7 separate regions of the Homo sapiens genome follow, and all the other regions are linked to region 5. The links come from fine-mapping of genetic effects on gene expression. A gene starts in region 5. Each other region holds a variant in brackets. All regions are shown on one strand. Distances are from middle to middle.

Region 1 (4,065 bases), 290 kb before region 5:
TTTCTTATGCCTGTCTTTACTGTAATCTCTAAACATAAATTGTGAAGATTTCATGGACACTTATCACTTCCCCAATCAATACCCTTGTGATTTCCTATGCCTGTCTTTACTTTAATCTCTTAATCCTGTCAATTTGTAAGCTGAGGAGGCTGTATATCGCCTCAGGACCCTGTGATGATTGCGTTAACTGCACAAATTGTTTGTAGAGCATGTGTGTTTGAACAATATGAAATCTGGGCACCTTGAAAAAAGAACAGGATAACAGCAACATTCAGGGAACAAGAGAGATAACCTTAAACTCTGACTGCCGGTGAGCCAGGCAGAACAGAGCCATATTTCTTTTCTTTCTAAAGCAAACGGGAGGAAATATCACTGAATTCTTTTTCTCAGCAAGGAACATCCCTGAGAAAGAGAATGAGCCCCTGAGGGTAGGCCTCTAAAATGGCCCCCCTGGGTGTGGCCGTCTTCTATGGTTGAGACAGTAGGCATGAAATGAGCCCCAGTCTCCCATAGCGCTCCCAGGCTTATTAGGATGAGGAAATTCCCGCCTAATAAATTTTGGTCAGACTGGTTGCTCTCAAACCCTATCTCCTGATAAGACGTTATCAATGACAATGGTGCCCGAAACTTCATTAGCAATTTTTCGCCCCGGTCCTGTGGTCCTGTGATCTCGCCCTGCCTCCATTTGCCTTGTGATATCTTATTACCTTGTGAAGTACGTGATCTCTGTGACCCACACCCTATTCACACACTCCCTCCCCTTTTGAAAATCCCTAATAAAAACTTGCTGGTTTTACGGCTTGGGGGCATCACGGAACCTGCTGACATGTGATGTCTCCCCCGGATGCCCAGCTTTAAAATTTCTCTCTTTTGTACTCTGTCCCTTTATTTCTCAAGCCAGCCGACGCTTAGGGAAAATAGAAAAGAACCTATGTGACTATTGGGGGCAGGTTCCCCAATAAAAACATGCTTCTCGAATGGAGCCCTAAGACCTTTTTGCTCAATCATGCCCTTGAGCTCATGCTGACCTCTCCTCCTCCATCGTCTCTTACCCTATTTTCTAATCACTTCACCAGGGCCAGGCCATCTTTAGTTTCCAGAGAAGAGGCTGTAGCCTGTTAGACTGCTGAGTCTTTACAGTGGCAAATCCTCCATTCTGTGGCCCCTGAATATGACCTGATGGACTGATCGATAGGTTCGTGGTACAGCTGCTCATACCGAGGTGCTCAAGCAGATTTCCTGCAGTGAGCTCTTCCTCCAGGCCTTCAGCATTAGGGTGGAATTTCATTCTTAATTTGGCAAGGAGCACAGAAAATCATCACAGCAAGCCTCACCTTCTTTTTTTCCTTCCTGTCTCCTCTCTTTCTCACTCAAACACATTTTAAGAGTTTGACAAAACAAAGGGGGTCGGTGCAAAAGCCAAATATGTTGTGAAGCTCTTGTACTAGGCAAGCGGCACAAATTGAGTTAAGAAACCTAGAAAATGGAAATACTAAACACCTAGCCTAGTTAGAAAAGGTCAATATGCCTCAAATGATACACAGAACCACAAAGCAAAAACCATTCACCTCAATTCACAGCAGGACGGAAGGCCAAAGGGTGACATGCCACAACGTAATGGATTCATTATTAAAGTCCCGCTAAAATGACTCAAAAAGAGGAGGCTTAGCTGATGAACGCATTTCACACAATTCATCTCCTGACAACCCAAGAGAGTCCACAAGGGTAACACGGCCATGAAAGCTGGGGCTGGGACAGAAGTTCTGATGGATCCCGAAGAATAAACACCAAGATCCACACTCACTGGCATGAATTTCAGCCACTGAAACAGGTCACCCACAACATTAGCCTGTGTGCACCTTTCTCCTGGGCACTCAGACTCCAATATTTGTTTCCTTCTCCACCAAGACAAAGTAATTTGGGGAAGCCAATGGTTAAAAGTGTGTGGTGATGGCCATTTTTTTTTTTTTTTTTTTTTTTTTTGCCATGAGATGTTACTAATGGTCTCCTACACAATGCCTTCCAGTGAAGGTTGTATTTCCATCAGAGTCCTGGCTTAGTAGCTGGAAATTTGGTAATTTGAGCAAGCGGAAATCTCTCATCAACAATAACGGAACACAGCATAGAGCAGTACTGTGGCATTAACTGCATATCACTCCCCACCACTGATGGTGCTGCCGCCCCAGACTCTGGTGGGTCCAAGCTACAGAACCCAGCTTCTTACCGTGACTGGCAGGGGTGCAAGTTGCACCTTCGGACCTGGGGCTCTGGGCGGCTTGCTTGAGGGCAGTCACTGTCGTTCACCAGAGTTGTGGTCTTGTTGACAATCCGTGTACACGAGAC[G/A]ATGGTTCTGCGCTCCCCTGGAAACCAAACCACAGGGAGCTGAGAGACTGTGGCTGCACCCACGTGGAAAGGCTGGGCTTGCATGCCCATGAAAGCATGTTTGGGTGCTGCTGATGGTCACTTGGTCATTTAAAGTGACTGCTGTAAATGTCATGTGGGTTTTTAGAGAGGAAGAACTATAATCGTAGGGAGGAGAGTACAAGACACAGAAGGCAGAGTGGGGCCCTGGAAGATTCTAGAACAAGATAAGAAAGCAGCAACACCTCAGATCAGCGGTGTCCTTGGACAGCTTGGGGTTCGTTGATTTGGGCCTTTGATTTCCAAAGATTGCTCATCTTTTTATCTGCTTGTTTGATGTTTAAAGTCTATGGAGATCTGATCTCAATTAAAGACCTGCACATCAGCCCTCAGCAGAGTCTGGCTACCTATTACAGAATTCCTGCTTGCTGGGGAGAAGTGGGAGATGAGGAGTCTGGTCTGGAAGACACACAGACCTGCATCCTCTAGACAGGCATTCCAGAGCCATTCTGACTTGTCTAGCCAGCCAGCTGGTACTTATGGCTGAGCCCCCACCTGCTCTTGGGAAGCTTTGCTAATTCATTATCCCAAATAGATGTAGCCCTTCTTATAGGTGTTCCCAGAGCACCCTAAACACTGCACGGCCATGCCTTTGTCACCCTAAATACTGCACGGCCATGCCTTTGTCAGGCAGGCTGAGTGACTGGGAGTTAGGAGGGTGGCCCTTGGAGCCAGGCTGTCTGGGTTCAAGTCTTGGCTGTATCACAAATAGCATCACAGTGGCCATAGTGTCAACAGTTGGCCACCATACTTCTGTGTCTCAGTTTCCTCAAGCAGCCTGGTTTGCTTAACTTCCCTGTGCCTCAGGGTGCCTCAGTGATGATTAAAATAAACAAATATATATGGTGTCCATAGAACAGAACCTGGCAGGTGGCTAACACTTCATCTTAGCTCTATTGCTGTCATTATTATTATTTGGGAAGAGTGACAATAAAAGATTAATAGGGAGTCAAGCACAACTATTTGGATCCTGGGCTCCCTGCTGGGTCTGTGTCCTGGGCAATTTGTCATGTAGGGATGACTCGAAATCATGGAGACCTGAACTCCACTGCCAGTTGCTGCTGCCCCACATGGCAGCCTCGCATGAGTACAGAAAGCACGGAACTGCTTTCAGCTTTGGTGGCAGGTCTGACCACTGTGTTAGGAAGCTGGAAGTCATCAGTGTCATAAAAGGATTGCCACCAAGCCAACAGCAACAGAACAGCCTGCCCCTGACCCCAGGAGAGCCTGACTATTCCATGTGGGCTATGCTTAGTTTGTAACAAGCTGCCCAAGAGGAAAACCTGGCTGGAATCAGAGGTAGATGTGTCAGCTGGATTTGGAGGTTGAAAGGCCATCGGCACAAGCGGCAGCTAAGGGCTGAGGGGGAGAAGGCCCCCCGGGGAGAGGTGCAGAGTGGAGGATGCAGGGCTGATGGTGGTATCCGGAGGCTATGCCAACTGCCGCAGGGCTGTTGCAGGAATAGGCTAAGCACAGACAGTGAGGGTGGTTGGCCAAGATGCCCAGGAAGAAACTCCTGTGTGTCTATAACTCCTACCCATGAAAAATGGGATGAATCCCTTAAATGGTAAGCAATGCTTTACATATTGGACATCTAACAAAAGTTATCCAAGCAGTCAATAGGTGCTCAGGACTAGGGATGGC
Region 2 (4,065 bases), 190 kb after region 5:
AAGGCACTTGAACATTGTGGGTTAATGAATAAATTAAAATTCATTATCTGGTCAGCCCTAAAGCTTTATTTCCCTTGTTTTGTGTAAAGGTTTCAAAAAAATAAAAATGCTTAACAGAACATTCTTGCTAAACATTTGCTTGGATCAGAAAAAGTAGTTTGATTTTGTTTCACTTTTCTGCATGAGACTGGCAGCCTTAGAACCGAACAGCTAATTTCTCCTGGCATGACATTGAGCACTACATCTCTCAAGACAGAAGCAGCTTAGGAAGGCCTGCCACTGTGGGGTGAGCAAGTCCCACCTTGTTCTCAGCTTAAGGCACTCTGGGATGGTCTGAAATGGCCTTTGCCACCTGGCAAAGATCTGTGCTGACCCCTTTCATTCCACCTGGATTCAGGGCTTTCCTGATAAACCAAGCTATGCTGAGCATTCAGCCGTGTGTGATTTCACTGCCCAGACCTTTCTTCCTAACCCTCAATGAATCAGTTTAAACTCGCCCGAGAGCAATGCAGGTCAGGAGTGGAAGTTTGGACTCGAAATTTACCCTCTACTACTAAACACTTCCAAGCAAAACTCTACAAAGCAAAGGGCCCCAAGTCTGTCTTTTCTGTATTTCTCCCAAACATCAGACCAAAAATGAACATTTCTTCATTTGTCCGCCTCTCCCCCAATCTCCATCTCCTCTCCCTCTCTGTTACGCACCCAGGCACACATACACACACAAGCTCACACGCGGAATCACGGCCACCTTGGTTTTGAAAGTCCTCAAATACTAACCACATCCATGGGATGGCGCCTACCTTTCTGAAATGTCAGTCCACAAAAGGTGCCCCTTGCTTGTGAAGTGTAGTCAGAGAGCAGCTTCCAACGTTCCAACCAGCTTCGTTCTCCTCAGAGAGCAGCACAACTCATCTCTGTGTAAGACCTGAAATTCCTTCAGAGACCCACCCTCCAAAGTTGCGAGTCAAGATTTCTGACTGAGGGCAGTCAGTGACGTGAGGCGAAGCTACTGGATGGCACCCTCAGGTTCTTCCTGATGGGATGTTGCTTCCTGTTTCACCACCTTGAGAAAAGAAAGCTGGAATTCAGTGAGACATTGAGTTACAAATGCATCAGTTGCCTCATCGTTGTTGCCTTTTGGTGCACACAGTCATCTGTCAACTGCTGAACAGGATGATCTTGCTGTTTGTATTAAAAGGAAAGGGCTTATGCGCAGAGAGAACCCCAAAACACCAGTCACAACCCTGTACTGTCCTAGGAGCTGGTTCGACAAGTATAGTACTCTCCAGAAAACAGGCAGGGCTTCTTACTAACTAAATCACCACCATGCCACAAAACTCATCCACTAAGGAGCATTGGTCCACAGGAATGTGATTTCTCTGCCCGCTTCCTAGGAATTGAGAAAACGATCAGTTTTTTGAAGCATATAACTGCCAAAAAATACAATAGTCTGGCAATCTTTTCTTCTTAGAACAGTCAGATATAATTCGCATTTTTATTTGTTTGTCTCTAAGAACAATCATCATAGACAAAGACAGACAAGCTCATTAGTATCAGGAAATAAACATTGTTGCTTGTCTCTGTGTGCTTGAACCACTACAATTTCAAAGGCAAGTGTGGATGCATTTTATAGTGTTTATTTGAGATATTGTACCTTTGAAGCCATTTTCACTTTCTCTTGCCTGAAGATGAAACAACTCTGGGCTTGGATTATTTAAAGGTGCTCTGACAAGTAGAGAGCTTCAACAAGTTGATTCCTGTATCTCTCACAAACCAAACATCAGCAGTACCGCCCACACTGAGAGCCTGATTCTCATTAGCTGTCTTCAACTGCTGAAAGACATTTTTCTTTTTTCATCAGCTAATAGATGACCGCAAATTAAAAATGGACTAGATGCAGATAAAGGGAAACACCAGTTTCAAATTCATTAAAGCTCCAAAGTTTCTCAGATTTCACTAATGAATTTAGTTCAAAGAGAGAGGATTGATAAACGCCCTTCCTTTCACTGGGTACTTCTCACTCAGGGCTTCC[C/T]GGTCTGCCTTTCTCTTCGAAGACGTTCTGTTTTTCAGTAATGGGCTCATGCATTTTTAAAACCATCTGGCAGAAGGGATGAATTTAAAGCAGACTTGGCCACTAACCGAGGTAGGCTCAGTTCAGGTCTGCCTCACCTTCTGCCAGGAGACCACTGCAGAATTGGTTTCCTGACATGAGGCTTCCATCTTCATCCAATTGTCACCTAACTCACATTCCCATTCTCATTTCTTTTTCTTCTGCTGATTAAACTCTACCAGCCACCTTCTACCTATAGGATCAAGACCAGACTCCTTGGCACAATGGCCTGCTCGCAACCTGCTGCTCCAGGACTTCCTTTTGCCCTTTCCCACTAGATTCCAGACACAACAGTGGGCAGCTTCTGGGCCCTTGCCATGAGCTGCTCTCTCGCCTCTGTGCCTAATGAAAGTCTGAATCCTGCTCAAGCTTCCCTAGCCTCGGCCCTCTCTGTTCTGTGGGTATACCTTTATTGCAACACCTACTACTCTATCACAACTTAACTGATTTTTGTATCTGCTTCCCCACTACTTTGGGAATCCTCACTGGACAAGCCTTAGATCTCTTTCTACCCCTGGAGCTCAGCTGTTCAATACTGGTCAAACAATTAGTACCCAAAATAGTGATCATCCAACACTCATTTTCACTCCGGGGATATCTCGGGAAAAGAATGTCCTGAACCCTATTTTGGACTCTCTTACTCAGAATTAAACAAGCCAAAAGAATATTGGGGAACCAGGCTGGGAACAGTGGCTCACACCTGTAATCCCAGCACTTTGGGAGGCCGAGGTGGGAGGATCCCTTGAGGTCAGGAGTTTGAGACCAGCCTGGCCAACATGGTGAAACCCTATCTCTATTAAAAATACAAAAAATGAGCTGGGCATGGTGGTGGGCGCCTGTAATCCCAGCTACTCGGGAGGCTGCGGCAGGAGAATTCCTTGAACCCAGGAGACAGAGGTTACAATGAGCCAAGATCACTCCACTGCACTCCAGCCTGGGTGACAGAGTGAGACTCCTGTCTCAAAAAAACAAAAAACAAAAAACAAAAAAACCAATATTGTAGAACCACATGTTTTCATGCTTTGTTTTAGTTACTTCTACAATGAAACACATGTTATTTGCTGATAAAATATAATGTTCAAATCAAATCGGAACTATTTAGACATAGTTCTATAACTCCTGTTAATCAAAAGAACCCCGTCAGCATCTGCTGTCTTTTTTGAGTCACTGTCAAGGTGTAATTCTTCCCCCTTCTTCAGGGGCAAGATGTAAAAATGAGGCTATTGCACAACTTGTGCTAGAGGAATGAGAGTGAGGAACTCGGAGGGTTTGCTGGTGAAGACTTTGTGGGAGCTGTGGGAGTGAGGAACTCGGAGGGTTTGCTGGTGAAGACTTTGTGGGAGCTGTGGACCTATGTGTAAGTCTAGTCATCTCCACAGCTCCTCTGAGGAAAATAACCCAGGGCAGGAAATAGGCTGTGTGTGGAGTTGAAAACAAAGCAAATATGGTTATCTCAAGGATTCCTAAGGTGATTCCTTTTTTCTTCTCTTTCTTACTTGTGCCTCACCATAAATGTATCAGTGCATTGCTAAGAGAAAAGATAGAACCCCAGGAAGCATTAAAGGAAAGAGCAAGATGCATGCACGTGGGTATCATTTCTCCTAGGTAGTACTTAGCTGTTTCCTTTTATGAGAAAACGGAAGCAGTGAGTTGAGACATTAAATCAGTTTTATATTGCGAATCCTCATTAATAGATATTAAATCACTTATTAGCATGTTAATGATTCATTGCATTTTAAAAAGTGAACGTCGGACCTCTGACAAATGAAATGTAGACAATTAAGCATGACAGTGGAGAGGTGTTGTCGGGAGCAGTAGGGGTGCATTACAAAGCGGGTACCGGGTGCCTTTCACCTAGTAAATTGGGAAGGAGAGGGATAGGAGAAGTGTAGACCAGAGACAAACCCAGTCAAGGTTCTGGAGAGCCACTTAGGAACTAGAAGAGGAAAACACAG
Region 3 (4,065 bases), 110 kb before region 5:
TTCAACCATCTCCTGAACACTTCCACCTGGATTTCTCACAGGCTAAAGTCAAACCTCTGACTCAGGCCCAGCTCCAAATCAAAGTGGGTTCACCTCAACCCAAATAACCACTGTCTGTTCTGCTGGGAGCAAAACTGAGATCCTCTGTCTTTCCCACCCACATCAGAAATCCTCACTACCCCCTCCAATCCTCCCCATTCCACCTCCAATTCATTACTAAGTCATGTCAATATGGAGATCTCAGATCCACCCACTTTTCTTTATCTCCCCTAAATGACTGTACACTTGGCCGCAAGTAATAGAAAACAATGGTTTAATCAGAGACGAGACACCATTGCTCAACACAGAAGTCTGGAGAGGCAGGCGGCCCTGGATTGATCAGGCAGCCCAGTGATGGCACATCGCTGGATGGACAGATCTGTGGTCCTCCTGGCCTTTCCCTCATGGTCCCAAGACAGCTGCAGAAGCCCTAAGCACTGTCCTCACACAGTAGCTTCCCAGGGTGGAAAACCTTTCTCTGAGGCTGCCAGCAGGCCTTTGCTTAGATTTCCCTGGGCTACGTGGGATTGCACAGCCACTGCTGCAAGGGAGACCAGGTAAGTGATTATCCAGGAAAAGGAATGGACTGTCGTGACCGGCTTCATCACCTGAGGGTGGGCACACAGCCCAGCAATGTATAAGAGAGGGGCATGGCTGCTAAGTCCACAACTAGCAATACCTTCCAAACCCACTGTTATCTTAGAGCAACGGCTTTCATTCCTGACCTTGCTCCCACTGCAGTAAACATGGCCACGTCATCTGCCCATAGCTCTTTGATGATGAATCCCGACACTCAGATAAAATCCACGACGCTTTGTGGAGCCCTCAAGGCCCTGCAGATACAGCCCTGCCTTATTTCTCACTACTGGGCCTCCTTCATGTTCCTCAAATGCTCCAAACTCTTTCTTGCTTCAAGGCTTTCAGAAGGGGCCATCTCCTCACCTACACGCTCTTTCCCGAAATCTTTACATGGCTGACTCCTTCTCACAGTTCGGATCCTAGCCTTGATGTTACCATCTCCGAAAGGCCTCAGAACAGTCTACTTTGACACCATCCAGCGCGTGACCTCTGCATTCAAGAAACCTGGCCCAGTTTATCATCATATCTATTTGTATGACAAGTTCTTTTATGCCTGTCACTCTGATTAGACTGTAAGTGTTCTGAAGGCAGGAATCTCATCTGCTTTGCACATCACTATAATACTGGTACCATACGCAAAGCCTGACAGGTACAGAGGCTCATGAACACTGCTGAATTCATTATTGATCAATTAGTGCATTAATGAACTAACTGAAAGAGGGACTGGACCGAGGAGAAAAGGAAAACTCGAGGGTGAGAGTGAGCAGGTACATTTAGGGCAGGATGAGGACACAGACCCAGCCCAAGTGGACATGTGAGAGACCACGAGAGAGCGCTGAACAGACACAGGCAGGTGAGGGCATGAAACGTCAAATGCCACACTTGGCATGCTCTTGGAGAACTCCTATTCTCTACCCCTCGTGTTTCCATGCAGAGTGAGGTCTGCCACAGCAATGCTCTGCCTGGCAAGGGCAGGTGACTTGTCTGTCCAATGGTCTGGGGGAAGGAGCTGGCCTGCTCACTAGCCCCCCAACCCCAGCTCTCCCTGCCTACCTGTGGGAGGATGGGGCCCTGTGGTGGGCTCACCACCCACAGTGTCACCTGCCTCTACGAGGGGGCCATTGCCCTGCGGTCCTGTCTGTGACAGTTGCAGAAGAGAAGTTGGATAGTGCTTCCGTTAAATTTCAGGGAGCAAATTGGATCATTCTAAGGTGAAACATTCAGTGACATTTGGGCCCCCTTCTCCAATCAGCTTCCTTGGTAGTAATGCTCACAGACACTGTGACTACCACTGGTTCCAAGCCTGGGAGGGGAAGATGGTTCTTATGGAGTATCCCTGAAGACCCCAACAGAGTAGCTCACCACTGACACTGCAGGTGCTGAGGAGCCAGCACAGCTTTAAGTCCTGCACAACCCAACAGCTTGCAAATAGGACGCAAAGATGGTTTCAGGCTATGAATCACTCTCCCTCCTAGGTAGCTCTCCCCACCCCCTCCCCACATTGACAGAAGTGACCATTGACTGGACTCCCAGGCCTCTTATCTAATATCCTGCCCTGCAACTCTGACGTGAAACATGAGTGTTGCTGATGCCTTCCCTTGCAAATTCCTGCCTTACAAATCTCTGCTGATGTCTTGGTCCATGGGACAATCACTCTTATTTCAGTGGCTTCTGTTCTATGACGCACAGTGGTTCTGCCTGTTGACCTGGATGCTCACTTCACATTCAGGAAGTCTTCTCTCTGGACTGAGAACCACAGCAAGGCTGGTCCCGCTAAACTAAAAAGGACCCAGTCTCCTGGCTGCAGTCCAAAGGATCCACCCTCTGTTGACCTCAAAGAATCATATGATGTCCCAGAGGC[A/G]ACCACTCAAAGGTCACATGATCCGTTGAAGATGCTGACACGCCTCCTCCCACAACAAAACACCCACAGAGCCTCAGGAGAACTAACTGCAAAGTTCCCTCTCCCTGACCAAATGCAAACATCTTCCTTTGAAGTGTAGACAGAGAACGCAAGGGCAACTCTCTTGCAGTGGTGAAGTATGGAGCTCCAGTGAGCAGGTGGACACAGAGCCAAGATGAAAGGCCACAGCACCTTCCCTGACCAGCAGGAAATTGCCACACAGTCACCTGAGATGATCAGTGCAGGGAAAGCCTGCCTGTGTTGGCCTCCCTCACAGCTAAGGAGGATGCACCCACAGCACATCAACTAGCTCCAACTCACTCTGCCCCCACTGCCAACCACCCATCCCATGCTGAAGTCCTAGAAGTTTCCTGGCCAAGCTGCACGAGCATAACCAACACCGGGCACTTAAACATAACCAGGGGCATATTAACTGAGAAGACAACTCAGAATAAGTGGTTTTCTCAGTTAAACTTTCTCCGCAGTTTGGGCTTGCAGAAGAGCACAAACACGTCACGAATGACACCCGCGGTGCACGAAAGCCACACTTGCAGACCCCTATCTTTGTGGTACCTTCAAAGAGAACTCCACATTCTACAGAGCGTCCAGTGGGTCTCCACATCAGATGCGCATCCAGGGCTGAGGGCAGGCTAGATAGTAACAGATTCCTGTGTATAACTCTTTCCAGATGCTGGCTGGTACAGAGTTGGAGGAGAAGTCATCCATGCCATAGACACACGAGCTAATTCCAAACCTCACAGCAGGGAGGGATCTGAGGCCAGCAATGGTGCAAGGAGAGCAAGGGGTGGAGGAAACGGGGTTAGACTGGGATGGTCTGCAAATTGCAATGGCATCATAGCCGAAAAGTTCCTGAAAAGTCTAATTGTCCTGAGGCATCTTCATAACAGCTATCTCAGGCCTGACCACTGGGTTGAGATGGGAGTGACTGGCATTTAACACTTTTTTCGGGTTTGATCACTCAGCAAAAGCTTAGGAAGTATTGCATTTTGAATGAAAGCATTTATTGTTTAAATGAAGGCACCAATAGTGGGTAACGACAATGCTTGGAAGAAACAAAATTATAAAAATGAATTTAAACACACACACACCTAGCTTCGGAAACATGTCCACTGTTGATACCAAACACCTCCTGAAACAGGTGTTGGGACTGCCTGGGGACCCAATTAGGAAGCCATCACTCTGTCTCCCAGCAGCCAGGGGACAAGAACAGCCCACGGGGGGAGGAGACAGAGGGATTAGCAATAAAGCAAGGTATGTCTTGGAAGGCAGCCACCCTTTCCACCTGGTGCTGAGAACTCTGTTGGCACCAAAAGGAATTGTGAAGTTGGCAACCCCATCAGAACACAGAGAGAGCGCCTGCACATCCTGGGAGGAAGATAATCCAAAGCAGTCTTTAAAATAAATACTTCCATCAGGGAATTTAAGTACTTTGTATCTAGCAATGGTGTGCCTCATTATTTTCAGGACCGTGTTATGTTATGGCCTACGTTGCTTCAAATTCTGAACTCATGCCATTTGTCAAAGAC
Region 4 (4,065 bases), 420 kb before region 5:
AACAAACAAACCCAGGCCGGGCACGGTGGCTTACACCTATAATCCCAGCACTTTGGGAGGCTGAGGCGGGGAGATCACGAGGTCAGGAGACTGAGACCATCCTGGCTAACATGGTGAAACCCCGTCTCTACTAAAAATACAAAAAAATTAGCCGGGCATGGTGGCGGGCGTCTGTAGTCCCAGCTACTCGGGAGGCTGAGGCAGGAGAATGGTGTGAACCCGGGAGGCAGAGCTTGCAGTGAGCCGAGATCACGCCACTGCACTCCAGCCTGGGTGACACAGTGAGACTCCATCTCAAAAAACAAACAAAAAACACCAAACCCAAAACTTTCTATTTGCGAGGGGGCTTCAATTTTCACAAAAAGTGTAGATTCTTGCCCTCTTCCTAGTCAAATAGGGACAGATGGTTAGGAATGTGTTAGGGGAATGTTTTATTTCTTTGCTTCTGTGCTCACCCACTGAAGGTATTGAGTTCTGGGATTTCTGACTTTATGCAGGGGTCTCTGGTCAGAACTCTTCCTCCAGCCCAGCTCCCCTCTTACTTTGGTCATTTGTACCCAGCATAGTTCAGTGTAACTGTGGTTCTAGGCGACTGGAAACCAGCAGAAGCCTTCAGGACAAAATTCAGCTCACTCATACAGGATTTTGATTCCAATGGAATTTCTGCCCTCTCATTGTTTTCCTTATTTTATTGCTATCTCAGTAGAACTTTAAATAAATAAATAAAGCTAAAATTATTTTATTTGCCATTTTTATATGTAATGATCTCGGAGGGATTCTTGAACAGATGTGGTCTACAGTCTACAGCTAACATGTAGCTGCCTGCTTTCACTGTGTTCACTCTTCAGATTAATAAAATGAAAAGCAATGCTGATAATAGTGGTTTCTTTTCTTTCTGCTTTCTCCAGTAATTAGCTTATGGGGGACACTCAGAGGACAGGATTTAGGATCAGCAGACCTGGGTCTGCCTCCCATCTCCACTGCTAAGAGTTGAATCAGTCCATGCAGGCCACTCCCCATCCTCAGCCTTTTCTTCTGTCAAATGAACAATATAATCCCCTAGTTTTAGGGAATTTTGAGGAATACATCAGATTACCAAATCGTGAGTTCCTTGAGCTGATAAAGAGTGAGCACTTACTGTGTGTAAGGCAACTTTCCTAAGTGCTAGGGATACAAAAGTGAACAAAACACACAAAAAATGTGTCTGTGTGTGTGTGGGGGTTGGTGTGGATGTCCACAGGCATACATGTGTGGTAGCAGACAATAATATAAGAAAAATAAAGTAAAATATATAGTGTTTTAGGTGGTAGTAATTCCTATGTCAAACAACAGCGCCGACGAAGTAGAGGGGATAGGAATGCGTGTGTATGCCTGTGTGGGCACGTTCGCTACCTCTGCATCCCAGGCACCTAGACACGATCTGGCTCAGAGGGGAAGCTCAAAGAATGTTTGATGGATGAATTAACACTCATAGGACACTTACTACCATGCCTGGCGAATAACAGTAGCTTTTGGTTTTAGAATGGATGCAGTTGCTATTGGGCTCCCCTCTTTATGTCCAGTTGATGCAAGTAGGTTAGGGGGTCTCTAGAGGCTCACAAAGCTGTGCTTGGCTCAGAAGTTATCCAGATAAAAACTAGTATAGGAATCCAACTCCCCTCCTCCCTCCATCTTTCACCCCTGCAAATCTGGTGAGCTCCATGAAGCTTTCCTCCCCAGGTGACGTTGTTGCTGCTGTACTTAAGGGACAGCACAGGCCACCTGGGTGTGGGACAGAGCTGACACCTTCCTGTCTGGGCTCTTCCAGCCTTCACTCTAGAACGAAGCGGGAAGCCTCAGGTCCAAGGGGAGAGCCGCCGCAAAGGCCGCGTTGAACGCCGAGGTGCACGC[G/C]CAGGTACTGGCTAAGTGCGCGCCAGGGTGCTCGGGAGGGGGCGGGTGCGGGCCGCACTGCCGGGCGGGGTGCGCGAGTGAGGAGGGCGGGGTGCGCGAGAGAGGAGGGCGGGGTGCGCGAGTGAGGAGGGCGGGGTGCGCGAGTGAGGAGGGCGGGGTGCGCGAGTGAGGAGGGCGGGGGAGTGCGCGAGTGAGGAGGGCGGGGTGCGCGAGTGAGGAGGGCGGGGTGCGCGAGTGAGGAGGGCGGGGTGCGCGAGTGAGGAGGGCGGGGTGCGCGAGTGAGGAGGGCGGGGGAGTGCGCGAGTGAGGAGGGCGGGGGAGTGCGCGAGTGAGGAGGGCGGGGTGCGCGAGTGAGGAGGGAGGGGTGCGCGAGTGAGGAGGGCGGGGGAGTGCGCGAGTGAGGAGGGCGGGGGAGTGCGCGAGTGAGGAGGGCGGGGGAGTGCGCGAGTGAGGAGGGCGGGGGAGTGCGCGAGTGAGGAGGGCGGGGGAGTGCGCGAGTGAGGAGGGCGGGGGAGTGCGCGAGTGAGGAGGGAGGGGTGCGCGAGTGAGGAGGGCGGGGGAGTGCGCGAGAGAGGAGGGCGGGGTGCGCGAGTGAGGAGGGCGGGGGAGTGCGCGAGTGAGGAGGGCGGGGTGCGCGAGTGAGGAGGGCGGGGGAGTGCGCGAGTGAGGAGGGCGGGGGAGTGCGCGAGTGAGGAGGGCGGGGGAGTGCGCGAGTGAGGAGGGCGGGGGAGTGCGCGAGTGAGGAGGGAGGGGTGCGCGAGTGAGGAGGGCGGGGGAGTGCGCGAGTGAGGAGGGCGGGGGAGTGCGCGAGTGAGGAGGGCGGGGTGCGCGAGAGAGGAGGGCGGGGTGCGCGAGTGAGGAGGGCGGGGGAGTGCGCGAGTGAGGAGGGCGGGGTGCGCGAGTGAGGAGGGCGGGGGAGTGCGCGAGTGAGGAGGGCGGGGGAGTGCGCGAGTGAGGAGGGCGGGGTGCGCGAGTGAGGAGGGCGGGGGAGTGCGCGAGTGAGGAGGGCGGGGGAGTGCGCGAGTGAGGAGGGCGGGGTGCGCGAGTGAGGAGGGCGGGGGAGTGCGCGAGTGAGGAGGGCGGGGGAGTGCGCGAGTGAGGAGGGCGGGGTGCGCGAGAGAGGAGGGCGGGGTGCGCGAGTGAGGAGGGCGGGGGAGTGCGCGAGTGAGGAGGGCGGGGTGCGCGAGAGAGGAGGGCGGGGTGCGCGAGTGAGGAGGGCGGGGGAGTGCGCGAGTGAGGAGGGCGGGGTGCGCGAGTGAGGAGGGCGGGGGAGTGCGCGAGTGAGGAGGGCGGGGTGCGCGAGTGAGGAGGGCGGGGTGCGCGAGTGAGGAGGGCGGGGGAGTGCGCGAGTGAGGAGGGCGGGGGAGTGCGCGAGTGAGGAGGGCGGGGGAGTGCGCGAGTGAGGAGGGCGGGGGAGTGCGCGAGTGAGGAGGGAGGGGTGCGCGAGTGAGGAGGGCGGGGGAGTGCGCGAGTGAGGAGGGCGGGGTGCGCGAGTGAGGAGGGCGGGGTGCGCGAGAGAGGAGGGCGGGGTGCGCGAGTGAGGAGGGCGGGGGAGTGCGCGAGTGAGGAGGGCGGGGTGCGCGAGAGAGGAGGGCGGGGTGCGCGAGTGAGGAGGGCGGGGGAGTGCGCGAGTGAGGAGGGCGGGGTGCGCGAGTGAGGAGGGCGGGGGAGTGCGCGAGTGAGGAGGGCGGGGGAGTGCGCGAGTGAGGAGGGCGGGGGAGTGCGCGAGTGAGGAGGGCGGGGGAGTGCGCGAGTGAGGAGGGAGGGGTGCGCGAGTGAGGAGGGCGGGGGAGTGCGCGAGTGAGGAGGGCGGGGGAGTGCGCGAGTGAGGAGGGCGGGGGAGTGCGCGAGTGAGGAGGGCGGGGGAGTGCGCGAGTGAGGAGGGCGGGGTGCGCGAGTGAGGAGGGCGGGGTGCGCGAGTGAGGAGGGCGGGGTGCGCGAGTGAGGAGGGCGGGGTGCGCGAGTGAGGAGGGCGGGGGAGTGCGCGAGTGAGGAGGGCGGGGGAGTGCGCGAGTGAGGAGGGCGGGGGAGTGCGCGAGTGAGGAGGGCGGGGTGCGCGAGTGAGGAGGGCGGGGTGCGCGAGTGAGGAGGGCGGGGTGCGCGAGTGAGGAGGGCGGGGTGCGCGAGCGAGGGCGTCCGGCCGGCAGGTGGCACTGTGGCGTCGCCGTGGGCCGA
Region 5 (4,065 bases):
CCCGCCCCAGGTCCACATTCCCCGCCCCAGGTCCACATTCCCCGCCCCAGGTCCACATTCCCCGCCCCAGGTCCACATTCCCCGCCCCAGGTCCACATTAGCTCCTTCCTACCAGGCCCCCTCCAAGGGTCTATATCACTTTCCTTGTTTCACCAAAGTTGCCTATTTTTCCCAGCTGAGCAAAAGTCTATCATACCCTAATCAGAACTCAGAAAATTCCTGAAAGGAGAGCCAGACTGATCTAGGAAACTACACACAGAGATACCCGCAGGACTGGGAAGAAAGAGAGGTCTCACATAAGACCTTGCACCCCCAGCCTTCTAGCTTCGTAGATTCTCGAGGACTCGCCACAGACTCTGTGAGTAAGGGCTGGAGAATTCTAGATGGTGGCACAAGAAAAGGTGGAGGTGTGGGGAGCAGTTTCTTGTGCCTGGGAAGGACAGACACAAACTAATATCAGAAACTGCCTCCCCAGAGGCCAGTCATGACAGAAGACAGAGAACCCCTGCGGTTCATGCTCTGGGTCCATACCAAGCTTCGCTGGGGGCAGCCCATCTGCCGGCCATGTGTGCGGCTTTCGGGGCACGATGGAGAAGCTGAGTGCTCGTCTGGGCGCCAGTGTAGCCACATGATCAAGTGTGCGCGCAGGCAGGGCAAGTGCACACAAGAACCCCCCCTCCCCCTGGGAGCACCTGTTCCGGGTGCCTCAAATGCAACAGGCCAGGAACTTCGGGGCAGGGAAGTTACTGCCACAGCAAGGGAGCTCCTGGGGGCAGGAATAGGGTTTATCACCAATGTAAACACCCCTCAGGCCTGGTTGGGGGTGGGCACCAGATAAATGCCTACTAATAGTATAAGGAAGCAAAGACAAACACCCTTTCTCTCCTGTTTCTTACGTTTCAGCTAGGAAGAGTGGGGTGAGCCGTGGCCTGTCTGGGTACCTCTCCAAACTTCCTGTTCCAGGTACAGAGAGAAGACTCAAAAGGAAGGGAGGTGAATGCCCACTCCCCCACCTCCAAGTCCAAGAACATAACACCTACACGTACACAGGTACTCCCGTGACATACACTTTGACACGGCGGTGCAGATGCAGTGTTCTCTACATTGGGGCCAAGGCGCCTCTGTCCAGGGCCCTGACAGTTTCATCCCTGCCAGATCTGCGCTCCCTAGAGCGGGCGGCGTATACCCCACGCAACCCCAGCTCCGCGCGGGTTCCACGGGCTGCAGAGGCGCTGGACTGGGATGCTGCCCCTCCCACCCCCTTTGCCTATAGAGGGTACCGAAGGCCGGGGTGGGGGATGGGGAGAGGTGGAAAGGCAGGGGGTTCCCTCCGGTTCCCCTGGAGGCTGGACTTCCAGCAGAGGCGCCCCACCCCCACCCTCCACGGCGACCACTCTGCGTCGCAACAGACCGGACGGGCCGACCCGGAGGTGGCGCGGGCAGTACCAGGCCGCCGGCGGCGCCGCAGGCGCTGAGCGAGACGAGGGAGCCGGGGTGGCCGAGCACACGGCCCGAGTAGAAGCACAGCTCGGCGGGGCGGCCGCGGCGCCGGGCCGCGCCCGCCTCCTCCACCTCGAAGCCTCGGGACAGGAAGCGCAGGTCGCGGCGCAGCTGAAGGTACAGGTCGCGCCCGAAGGCCGGCAGGTGCAGCAGCAGGGCGCGCTCTCCGGGCCGGGCGCGCGGGGCGGCTGGGGGCGTGCGGGGGCGTCGCCGCCGTCGGGGCCCGGGGGCTGCGGGCAGCGGCGGCAGGTGCACGTCGTCGGGGCGCACCCGCCACGGGAGCACCACCTCCACGTCGGCCGCCGCGTCGCCGACAGCTGCGGGGAGAGAGGAGACGCGTCAGCGCGGCGGGGCCCGCCCGGACGCCCGCCCTCCCGCTGGCCGCCAGCCGCGCCAGCGCGGGGACAGCGCGACCCGGAGCCGGCGCTGCCTTCCCTTCCCTCGCCCGGCACCTCCACGCTGGCCCGCGCCACCCGGGGAGGGTCTCCGGCGCAGCCGCGCGAGCACCTCCCGGAACGGCGCCGCGCATCGGCGAGCGGAGACCCGGCGGCGGCGCGCCTGCCACGGAGCCACCCGATTCCCGTACTCCGGCCGCGGCCCGCGCCTCCTCCGCTCGGGCGCCGTCAGCGGTCCCGCCGCCGCCCCCGGGCCGCCAGGACGCCGCGAGAACGCAGAGGGAAGGTAGCCGCAGGACGCGGGGTGAAGAGGGCTGTGGGAGGGGGCGCTACCTGTGCCCGGGTCCAGTCCCCAAACCAGCAGCAGCAGCACGGGCAGGACGAGCGGAGGCAGCAGGGCGCCGTCACACATGGTACCCGGGACCGGCAGCCCCCCCGGACCGTGGCGGCGAAGCAGGAGCGCGCTAGGCGGCGGCGCCAGCCGGAGTGAAGCCCTCCAGCCTTTGGAAAAAGTAATTAGCGCTGCGGACAAACCCAACGTGGTAAACCCCAAGCCCCGCCTTCCCCTCGGAAGGCGGGAGGGGATTGGGCCCTCGCTTTCCTCCGCCCCGCCTCCTCCTTCCCTACTGGTTGGGATGGGTCGAAACCACAGTGCGTAGTTAGGTTGTCAGCGCTTTCTTACACGTGGTTTCTGGGCAGTGGCGGGGACACGGCACCAGGTGGCGCGCGGGAGCCGACCGGAGCCGTGGGACCCTGGAAGAGCTGGAGGATGCGGGGCTGGTCTTCAGAGCTTGTCCTCATTTTGGAACTCTCTCAGCCTGCTGCCCAGTTTCCCGGGAAGGTAGGGCGGAAATCGCCCCGGCCAAGCGGTTTCATCCAAAACTGCATATAATCTTTACATCTGAAGTTAGGTTTTAGTTGTTTGTGGCCGCAAAGACTCCCAGTCCACTTTCCCGCACACCTGAGTTAGCACCTGAAGGCTATATCCGCGGCGTTTATCCAAACTCTTCACACCTCCTGTCTTCTTTAATCCCACAGGAGCCAGTGCAACACGCATGCTCACACCCTCTTACAGACTGAAAAACTGAGGAAGAGAGAGAGCTTAAGGAAAAACGCTGAAGTTACCCAGAGAGTTCCTGTTGGAGCAGAGGCTAGAATTTGTGATCCTGATTTCTGGCTTGGTGCTTCTTATTAACAGCAGGATCCCCCCGCCCCGAGGGAAGCAGGACTCAGTGTTACAGGTTAGGAAACGGAGGCACAAAGTCCCAAAGCCTAGCCTTGAACGTGAGTCTCCCAGAAACAGAATGAGTTGATCCTTTCCTGCCACAATATAACTGAGGTCTGCAGGGAAGGTGACTCCATTAGCTTGCTGAATAGCATCTTGTAGAGGCTCATGCCTGTAATCCCAGCACTTTGGGAGGCCAAGGCGGGCGGGTCACGAAGTCAGGGGTTCCAGACTAGCCTGGCCAATATGGTGAAACCCTGTCTCTACTAAAAATACAAAAATTAGCCAGGCGTGATGGCGCACACCTGTAGTCCCAGCTACTCGGGAGGCTAAGGCAGAAGAATCGCTTGAACCCGGGGGGTGGAGGTTGCAGTGAGCCGAGATTGTGCCACTGCACTCCAGCCTGGGCAACAGAGCAAGACTCCATCTCAAAAAAACAAAACAAAACCAAACAAAACAAAAAAAACAATTAAGTGTAACCATAACCAATCTCAGGTTTCCCGTCCCTTCCCTGTCCTGCTCTTTTCCATTTTATCATAGCAGAAAGGTTATAGTTCCCCGCTGGATGCTGCTTGAAGCCTCGGAATCTAAATTCATCACAGGATTACATATCATCTGAAGGAATCTATAACACTGGCCACCTTCCCCGAAATATAATGAACCCCAAGGCTGAACAGTGACCCTCCACAGAGGCTTGCCACAAAAGGGGCTGCCCTCACTGCTTGGCACCTACAGTTCTGGGGGCATCTGCACAGGTCCTGCTCTTGGCCAGGCCTGGGGCTGTGTTTCTCCCCCTTGCCTCTGTCCAGGTCAACAACCTCAGATGACTGACAGCTCAGTAGCATTTTCTGGCAGCACAAGAAACCTTGGTGATTGAGGTGATGGACACCTCATTTACCCTGATGGGATTATTACTCATTGTATGGCCATATCAAAAAATTTCAT
Region 6 (4,065 bases), 310 kb before region 5:
TTTAGCTAGTTATAAAATCTTGGTCTGATCTGTGAGGACATCATGCAGACCCTGAGAACTGGGAGTCTGAGTCTCATGAGTCAGAAGGAGTGGGCTGGGGAGTAGAATGAGTGCCCCGTTCTGAGACGAGTCCTACCACTTGATAGCCACACATTTCTGTGGAGTCTCCTGACCCCATGGCAGTCCCCACTGGGGAGCCCTACCCAGAGAAGTCACATGACAGGAGGCTGCTGACAAGCTGTACAGGCAGAGCCACAGACAGACCCTCTAGGAACTGTAGTGCCTGGGTGATGAGCCATCAGCTGCCATCTGTGTCCCTGCTTCATCCATAATAATATCATGGGAAGCTTACTAAGTGCTCTGCTGACCTGACCCACCACCCCAATAACACTGTCAGACAGGCGCAGAATGTTCTCATTAAACCCTCGCACATTTGGGGCACTCATGCAGCCTTCTTTTCAAAAATGCATGCAAACCATCTGCCTAAATCATCCCTCATCCTCTAGTTGTGCCAGGGGTTGACAGCACTCTGAAACGGCATTCTTCGGACCCGGCCATTTATCTGTTTGGGAAATTGAGACCCAGCCCTCAGACCACTGGCTCTGCTCTTGTCTGCTGTGATTTCTCAGAACCAGTCAGCAGAGCCTCAGAGATGACAGCTGTAAAGTTCTGTAGCATCTTGGATTGGATTTTGTCCTGGAATGGGGTTTTGGACACTTCTAGAAAATCATAACAGTGATCATAAAAATGACAAATTTAGCTCTTACTGTGTGCCAGGAACTGTCCTGAGCCATTTATTTCTCTTAGCTCGCATCATTCTCATGACAGCCCTCTGAGGTAGGAACTCTCTCAGTCCCCTGTCGTACAGACAGGTTGAGTGGCCTGCTGCAGGTCCCCTGCTGGCAGCAGCGGGGCTGAGATGGGAACCTGGCTGCTGGAGTCCTCACTCTACTGCTTCTGCTTCTCAGGGTTCCCTCCTTAGTTTTCTTGAGCTGCCATGCTCTTTGCCTGCTTTCTTCTACCTTTGCCTTCTACCTTTACCCTCCTTCTCCTTTTTGAAAAGCAGCAGTGAACCTGCACTTTGCCTTTTGTCACTTTTAGCCTTAACAGGCATCTCCTTCTCAGTTTTCCTTATTTCAAGGGCTAACTTAAAACAACCACAAAAAGTTATCTTTGTCAAACCTTTCTTAGCAAGGCTGTTTGCGGACATCTCGCTGTCTGGCCCGAGCTGCCTGCTAAGGCTCCAAACTGTTTCCTCCCTCCCATTGCTGCATGCCTCAGTGCACTTGGGTCTTTCCATCTGGTTCACCCTGAGCCACCAGGGTGAACCCCTAGTCCTGAGTATGTCTCCCATCTTATGTCTTGTTGGGTCAGTTGTGATTATGGAGTCAGAATGGAATCTTCCCAGATTTCCGCTTGGTGCTGAGCTGTATTGACTTTCTGTAGCTGTGGGAACAAAACTACCTCTACTCTGACCTTTACTTATTCTATTAATATCTTCTCAAAACATAGGGATCTA[A/G]ATTTAACCCTGCTCGGTTTCCTTTCCTGACTGTGGCAAACTGCAAAACAAAATGGCCGTTGCTTCCCAGGTTGTCACAAACCTTCCTGCTTTGTAAGAAATAAAGTCAGGGTGATGAGTCCTTTCATTCATCCATTTATGCCAGAGAGAGGAGAAATGGGGAGTGCTTTGTCTGTCAATTAGGGCATCCGGCTGCCTCATTTCCATCCCCAGCTCCAGTCACCAGAGCTGCTGCCATGCAACGCCTGGAGCCTCCTGCAAAGTCCTGCCTTCAGTCTCCACTTGGTTAGGTCTCTGCTTTGTGGCTCTCTCCCCTCAGTGGCCTGGGCTCTGGGCCCTGAAGTCTTCAGGAGATGAGGTAACCGACTACCTTTCCCTCCTAGATAAGCCCCATACTCTATCTCTACTGAAGGATTTTTGCATCTGCTGTTAGATTCAAGTCATGGGACCCAATTCACCAAATCTGGTGATTTCCACCATGCTTTCTGAGTTAAAATGTCAAGGGACCTTCGTTACTATATGCTGGTGGTTCTCAATGCAGTCCCTGGACCAGCATCATGAGTGCTATCAGAGCCCTAGCTAGAAATGTAAGTTTCCAGGTCTCACTCTGGATGTACTGAATCAGAAGCTCTGGGAGTGGGGCCCAGCACTCTGTCAGTTACCCAGTCTCCTGGGGATTTCAGCACAGTAGAGCCACTAGACATATTGGGAAAATAATCACCCGAGGCCTGAGCCTTGCTTCGGATCAGCTCTCTGAGAGGTGCTGGCCCCCAGATCACCCTTTGTCCTCCCTGACAACTCACTGGGCAGGTGCAGCTGAAATGTTTTTCCCTCCCTGTTCTCATGATTCAGGGTAAAGCTCTCTCCCCCTGGCCAGGGAACATCCTCTTCCCAGGAAGCGGATTAAGAGTCGTGGAAGGAAAACACGACTGAGCCATGTGCACGGTGTGGGCCAGGGCACGTTCATTACCTCCTCAGTGCTAATTTCTGCCCTTAATGTCGTAAGGAATTCCTTTTGGAAATTATGTACTTCAATTTCATCAGGCTCCTTCCTTCAGTGGTATTTAAACCCAAATACAGGTTAGCAGACAGAAGTGCTGGCAGGAACCAGCCTTTCACATCCACCCACAAATGCAACCTCCTCACGCTCCCCCTACCAGGGCTCCAGTGGTCTGTAATGAGCCACCTGGGCATGGCACATCTGTGAAATCTCTAGTCACGCGCTGAGCCTGAAATCCAATCTTCGGGTTTGAATGATGCTGAGACCCTCCCATGATCCTTTTTCCTTCCCTAGTCTTACCCCCATCCTGCTGATGATACTATCTAAAGTTCACAAGTAGAGAGCTCAGAAGCATTCAAGAGGTTAGAAATGAACCACTCAAGACTTTTCTGCTGTTGCAATTTACTCTGAAATACGTATAAATTATATGATCTTGTTCTGACAAGAAGGGGAATGTTAGTATACTCTGGGACCTGCCCGCAATCTTTTACTATCTGGAAAATACCAGCATGGGTTTAGATTATGTAGTTATAACTGTATTAAAAATGTGTGTGTGCACGCTCACATGTGTATGTGTGAGGAGTGTCTTACGAAATAATGGATAACCCACAAAATGTTGGGGTCCAACAGCTGGCTGATGTTCATCATCGATATAGTTTTGTAGTTGAGCAGTGATGATAGTTTTGGCTGGCGTTCACGGAGTGCTGACTCGGGGTGAAGGAATTTATAGGCATTACTTCACTTCATCTCCTCAAGACTTCTATGACAGATGTTCTCATTTCCCATGTTTACAGATGGCAAGATCATGTAACTTGCCCGTGGGTTTGCATGCAGCTAGGGGTGAGGTGGGGACCTGAGGTCAGTCTCTCAATGCCCACCATGTGAAGCTGCCCCTGGGTGAAATGGATGGAGCATTTCATTCTTTTTCTGGCTAGCTACCGAACCTAACAAATTGCATGTCTTCCTGCCTCTACATGATAAGTAGATGATGATCTTGCTATTGCTTCCAACTTTAAACAAATCCATTTCAATAAAGGCTGCTGTAAAGCATGAGCAGGTAAAGGAAAGATTTAAAATATGTCTGCAGAAACTGCTGCTGAGAGTGGAATGAGTAGGACTAGAGGAAGAAGTCAAGGTGGGCTATGGGTAGGACACAGCATGGGTAAAGTCGACCACAGGCTCTACCTAGAGAGGGTGAATGATTTAACTAGAAGACAATCCAACATACACCAGGGTCCTAAACCAGCCTCTGATTTCCACCCCTTCATCAACGGAGCATCTGTCCAGACCAGACATCTGTCCCCTAATGGGTAAATGCTCATGCCACCGGAATGAAATCTCATTTTCGACATAATGCCGCTAACCATAGAGATGAGCAATTCTGGGATGACTGAGGCACATTCCCTCCACCAGTATCAAACAATCCATTTATCTGTTCAAATGACTTACTAAGACCTACTAAGCTCTAGGCGCTGCTGGGCACTGGAGACTAAGCTGCACACCCAGTGATTTCCATATTTGTAGAGTACTCACCGTGTGGCAGCTT
Region 7 (4,065 bases), 220 kb before region 5:
CAGCAGGAACAGGCGCCCTGCCCCTGCCTCTGCCTCTGGGAGGGGCTGCCCATCAGCCACCACGAGGCCTGAAGGACAGCCTGACTCACTGACCAGTCATCGGGGTGTGATGGGTTTTTTAATTTGAATTTTTACTATCAATCGTTTCTAGTTTTTCTGTTCTAGGACTTTTTTTTTTTTGGACAGAGTCTTGCTCTGTCATCCAGGCTGGAGTGCAGTGGTAAGATCTCGGCTCACTATAACCTCTGCCTCCTGGGTTCAGGTGATTCTTGTGGGTCAGCCTCCTGAGTAGCTAAGATTACAGGTGTGCGCCACCATGCCCGGCTAATTTTTTTGTATTTTTAGTAGAGATGGGGTCTCATCATGCTGGCCAGGCTAGTCATGAACTCCTGGCCTCAGGTGATCCATCCGCCTTGGCCTCCCAAAGCGCTGGGATTATAGGCATGAGCCACTCTGCCAGGCCTGTTCTAGGACTCCTAAACGTGAATAAAATAGAAGCTTAGATACAAAACCAAACGGCTTGCATGGCTACTTCACAAGAAAAGGATATCCAAATGGCAAATAAGGAAACAGAAGTTCGGCCTCACTGTTGATGAGGAAAGTACCAATTCCCCAGCCAGATACTGCTACACACGCATCCGAACGGCCAAAACCAGAGAGAATTACTGACAACACCGGTGTCAGTGAGGACATGGGGCAAGTAGAAAGCCACCCCAGCCACGGCAATGGAGATGGCACGGCCATTCTGCAAAGCTGGCAGCTGTTATGTGGTCACACATGCGCGCCCCAGGGGCCAGCAACTGCCCTCCTACTGTACTGACATATACCTGCACGTGCGCCCCAACACACATGCTCGACCGTGATGAGCAATACTGTGCACGGAGCTGTGCTTCTTTGTATATTCTACCTTCATAAGTTTGTTTAAAAATAAGCAAAAGAGTAAGGTAGAGAGGCTTTGGTGAGAAACCGAAAGCGTGGAGAGAAAGGTGAGCTCTACCCCAAAATTTCCCAAGCGCCTGCAGAACAAGGACCGTCTCCTGCTGAAGTGGAGTCCTCAGGGCCTTGATAGACACAAGCCCAGAGCAGAGAAGCAGCAAAGGTTTGCTGAGACCAACAGGATCATATGGCAGAACATCTGCCCCTTTCTTTGAGAGTGGATGGACAGGTAGAATCAAGAGAGGCTGGAAGAGAAAGATGCCACTTTTTATTTTCAGGTTTGCTGTATTAAATGAAGACAGACCAGAAGATAAAGTCACAACAGCAGTTCGGACCAGCTTCACCATCCAGAGACACAGGACGCTCAGTACAAACCTGGCAGTTCTGGTCCCTGCCCTGGCGGCCCCTGGCTCTGTGAGCTCTGAGAAGAGAGCAGGGCAAAGCCATAGGGTTTCAGAAGTGCTGCGAGCTGCTAACGCACCCTCAGGGCAGCAGACATCCCAGGTTTAAGGCCTCCTCTGAAAGGTGTCCAAGTAACACATGTAACTTATGCTTCAGTGTAGAATACTTAAATTTTTAAAAATTATCCATATGAATGCCAGATCGCTGGCACATGGAAAGCACATAGATGGGGTTTCACTGTGGAAGCAAAAACCAGTTACAGGCACATAACCTTACACCAGCCGTCCTCCCGCCGTCTTAGCAGGCTAGCCGCCTTCCTCTCCCTTTCTGGTGCATGTGGGCGGCACCTCATGATGACCCTGCTGTGTCCCAGCTCTGCACTCCACTCTCCTGCCCCTGCTGCACCTGCTGGGATGCAGCTGGCTTTTCATACAAGTGCATCTGAGCCTTCCTCTCCCCTCCCTCCCCAGCTCTTCCCCACACACAAACTGTCGAGGGGTAACAGAAGGTAAATTAGAGATGCATTTTCTACCCTGCAGTCTTCTGACGTAACTCCCACCAACAGCAACATAAATTATAGCAGGAAAGGACGGGCCTAGGGAGTCGCTTTGGAAACACCGATGGTCCCTAAGGCCTCCACGTCAGCTAGCAAAAAATAAAAATTCCAAGAGCTGTGAAGACCAAGACTAAAAAAAATAATTGTGTGTGGGGGGACTCTCTTGCCAGTATTTTTGGACAGTGAATAAACCAGCTGCAGAAGACAGGGAGCAGAGCCAGGAATATAAAGTGAAGGGGGTGAGAAGGGGGTCGTGGGAGCGTTCCAAGCCTGAGACCTACATAGCAGTGAATTTGGGACAACCTTGTGAAATCTCTAGGCAGCAGGCCTGGTGATTTAAGGAGTGAGACGGGGAGAGGACGTTGTTTTCGTCAGAGCTT[G/C]GCTCTGAGGCCCTGGTCAGCTGCGCTTTGTAACCATCACTACCATCAGGGCATCCTGCAGAAGCAGGCTGGAGGCTGCAGCCTGGACTTCATAAAACACGCCACATCCTGCGTCTCTTTGGGAAGCCCCGGAGATGGCTGGTAATCCACCCACCCAAGGCCTGTCCCGCCTCTTCCCATTCACCTGGGCTGGATCCATGGAGGCAAGAAACTCCATAGAAAACTACATGGGAAAAAGGAGCATGTTGTTTTCATTCACAACAGAAAACAGAGCTACGGTGCCACTGCGAAAGATCGAAGAGACTACCAAGGTGTAAATATTATAGGAGCAAAAAGGTATCACTTCTCTTACTGGGGAAAAACAAGGCTGGGTTCTGTGTTGAAGCTTGTTCTCAAGGTGATGCCGAGCACTCCAGACTGAGATGCCACCTTGCTGGAGAAGGGCAGGCACAACAGGTGACAGATAGGCCTCATGTGGCCGTTTATAGCATCTGGGCCTCAGTGAGGGGAGATGATACAAGGGCATGAGGTCTACCTGGTGGTCTGCCACTTTTGGCCTAATCGTTTATGATCAGCTTTGTGTTTCAGTGAAAAAATGATATTAGGGATGTGTTTTGGAGGCACTGGTATTGCAGAGAGATTGGTTTTCTGGGGCAAGTGCACATCCAGGCAGGAAGGCAGTCAGCACATTTTATGGAGTGGCCGCTCTGCTGTGGGCACGGAAGGCAGCATGGTGTCCAAACAGGTGTGGCCTGTCCCGGGCCTGCACAGAGCTCTCAGCTCAAAGGCCAGTGGGGAGGACACAGTCAAAACAAGTGAGCAAATACATAACAACAATATCAGCTGTTGTAACACGTGTAACGTAAGGAAGAGGTGCCGAGGGAGACTTAAGCAGCACCCCATTTGAAGCAGGCTGTCAGGGGCAGAGATCTCTTGAGAAGACATTTACACTAACACCCAAAGAAAGGAAAAGGGTAAGTTAAGGAAAGGGAAGACAGCACTGGGGAGGGTCCTGGGGTTAGAATGCTGTGGCCGAGAGCACAAAGGAGGCTTCGAGGCTGCAGGGGGCTGAACGGTGGGTCCCCTCGGCCTCAAAAGATAGTCCACTCGGAACCTGCAAATGAGACCTTATTTGGCAAAAGGGCCTTGGCAGATGTAATTAAGCTAAGGATCTGGAGATGAGACCATCCTGGATTTGGGTGGGCCCTAAATCCAATGACAAGCGTTCTTCCAAGGGAAGAAAAGGTGAGAGGACACACAGAGAAGAGACCACGTGAAGTCAGAGGCAGAGATGGAGGTGATGCACCTCCAAGCCAGGGGAGGCCAAGGGTTGCCGGGAGCCACGAAACGGATTCACCTTTGGAGTTTCAAGAAGGAAGCACTGTGCTGACACCTTGATTTTGGACTTCTGGTTTCTAGAACTGGGCTCCAAACGTGGCCTGCCGCTGCCTCGTGTGTGACGTTGGGCAAGTTACCAAACTTCAATGTGATTCTATTTTTTGTTTGTTTGTTTGTTTTGTTTTGAGATGGAGTCCCACTCTGTCACTCAGGCTGGAGTGCAGTGGTGTGATCGCAGCTCACTGCAAACTGCACCTCCCGGGTACAAGCGATTCTCCCGCCTCAGCCTCCCAAGTAGCTGGGATTACAGGCATGTGCCACCGCACCTGGCTAATTTTCGTACTTTTAGTAGAGACAGGGTTTCACCATGTTGGCCAGGCTGGTCTTGAACTCCTGACCTCAGGTGATCCACCTGCCTCAGAATCCCAAAGTGCTGGAATTACAGGCATCAGC

Direction of the effects. Positions count from the first base shown, and alleles are read on the strand shown. Sizes are in standard deviations (SD) of each study's normalised expression. Not every link is listed here.
As copies of A replace G in region 6, the expression in aorta of the gene that starts at base 2,383 in region 5 goes up (small effect, 0.38 SD a copy in GTEx).
With allele C in place of G in region 7, the expression in caudate of the gene that starts at base 2,383 in region 5 is lower (moderate effect, 0.45 SD a copy in GTEx).

The links.
Region 1: its variant is fine-mapped to the expression of ADAMTS17 in nasal epithelium (TOPMed, PIP 0.98).
Region 2: its variant is fine-mapped to the expression of ADAMTS17 in whole blood (INTERVAL, PIP 0.99).
Region 3: its variant is fine-mapped to the expression of ADAMTS17 in whole blood (TOPMed, PIP above 0.99). The same link has a PIP of 0.9 or more in blood mononuclear cells and naive CD8 T cells.
Region 4: its variant is fine-mapped to the expression of ADAMTS17 in whole blood (TOPMed, PIP above 0.99).
Region 6: its variant is fine-mapped to the expression of ADAMTS17 in aorta (GTEx, PIP above 0.99).
Region 7: its variant is fine-mapped to the expression of ADAMTS17 in caudate (GTEx, PIP above 0.99). The same link has a PIP of 0.9 or more in nucleus accumbens and putamen.

The regions. Positions count from the first base shown.
Region 1 is chr15:100,046,633-100,050,697 of GRCh38, forward strand. ADAMTS17 (ADAM metallopeptidase with thrombospondin type 1 motif 17) reads right to left here. Exons shown (of 22, transcript NM_139057.4): 18 at 2,225-2,360. Among named protein-coding and RNA genes, the nearest start is that of ADAMTS17, 290 kb to the right of the region's middle. The variant G/A (reference allele first, on the strand shown) is at 2,344.
Region 2 is chr15:100,528,013-100,532,077 of GRCh38, forward strand. CERS3 (ceramide synthase 3) reads right to left here and starts at 938. Exons shown (of 12, transcript NM_001378789.1): 1 at 801-938. The variant C/T (reference allele first, on the strand shown) is at 2,033.
Region 3 is chr15:100,227,176-100,231,240 of GRCh38, forward strand. All of the region lies in intron 7 of ADAMTS17 (ADAM metallopeptidase with thrombospondin type 1 motif 17), which reads right to left. Among named protein-coding and RNA genes, the nearest start is that of ADAMTS17, 110 kb to the right of the region's middle. The variant A/G (reference allele first, on the strand shown) is at 2,480.
Region 4 is chr15:99,924,455-99,928,519 of GRCh38, forward strand. No RefSeq gene overlaps it. Among named protein-coding and RNA genes, the nearest start is that of LYSMD4, 190 kb to the left of the region's middle. RefSeq lists an enhancer at 3,910-4,065 and a silencer at 3,926-3,985. The variant G/C (reference allele first, on the strand shown) is at 1,891.
Region 5 is chr15:100,339,593-100,343,657 of GRCh38, forward strand. ADAMTS17 (ADAM metallopeptidase with thrombospondin type 1 motif 17) reads right to left here and starts at 2,383. Exons shown (of 22, transcript NM_139057.4): 1 at 2,229-2,383; 2 at 1,447-1,817. The coding sequence starts at 2,307. RefSeq lists an enhancer at 717-1,235.
Region 6 is chr15:100,027,792-100,031,856 of GRCh38, forward strand. All of the region lies in intron 18 of ADAMTS17 (ADAM metallopeptidase with thrombospondin type 1 motif 17), which reads right to left. Among named protein-coding and RNA genes, the nearest start is that of LYSMD4, 300 kb to the left of the region's middle. The variant A/G (reference allele first, on the strand shown) is at 1,520.
Region 7 is chr15:100,123,803-100,127,867 of GRCh38, forward strand. All of the region lies in intron 12 of ADAMTS17 (ADAM metallopeptidase with thrombospondin type 1 motif 17), which reads right to left. Among named protein-coding and RNA genes, the nearest start is that of ADAMTS17, 220 kb to the right of the region's middle. RefSeq lists an enhancer at 1-661. The variant G/C (reference allele first, on the strand shown) is at 2,275.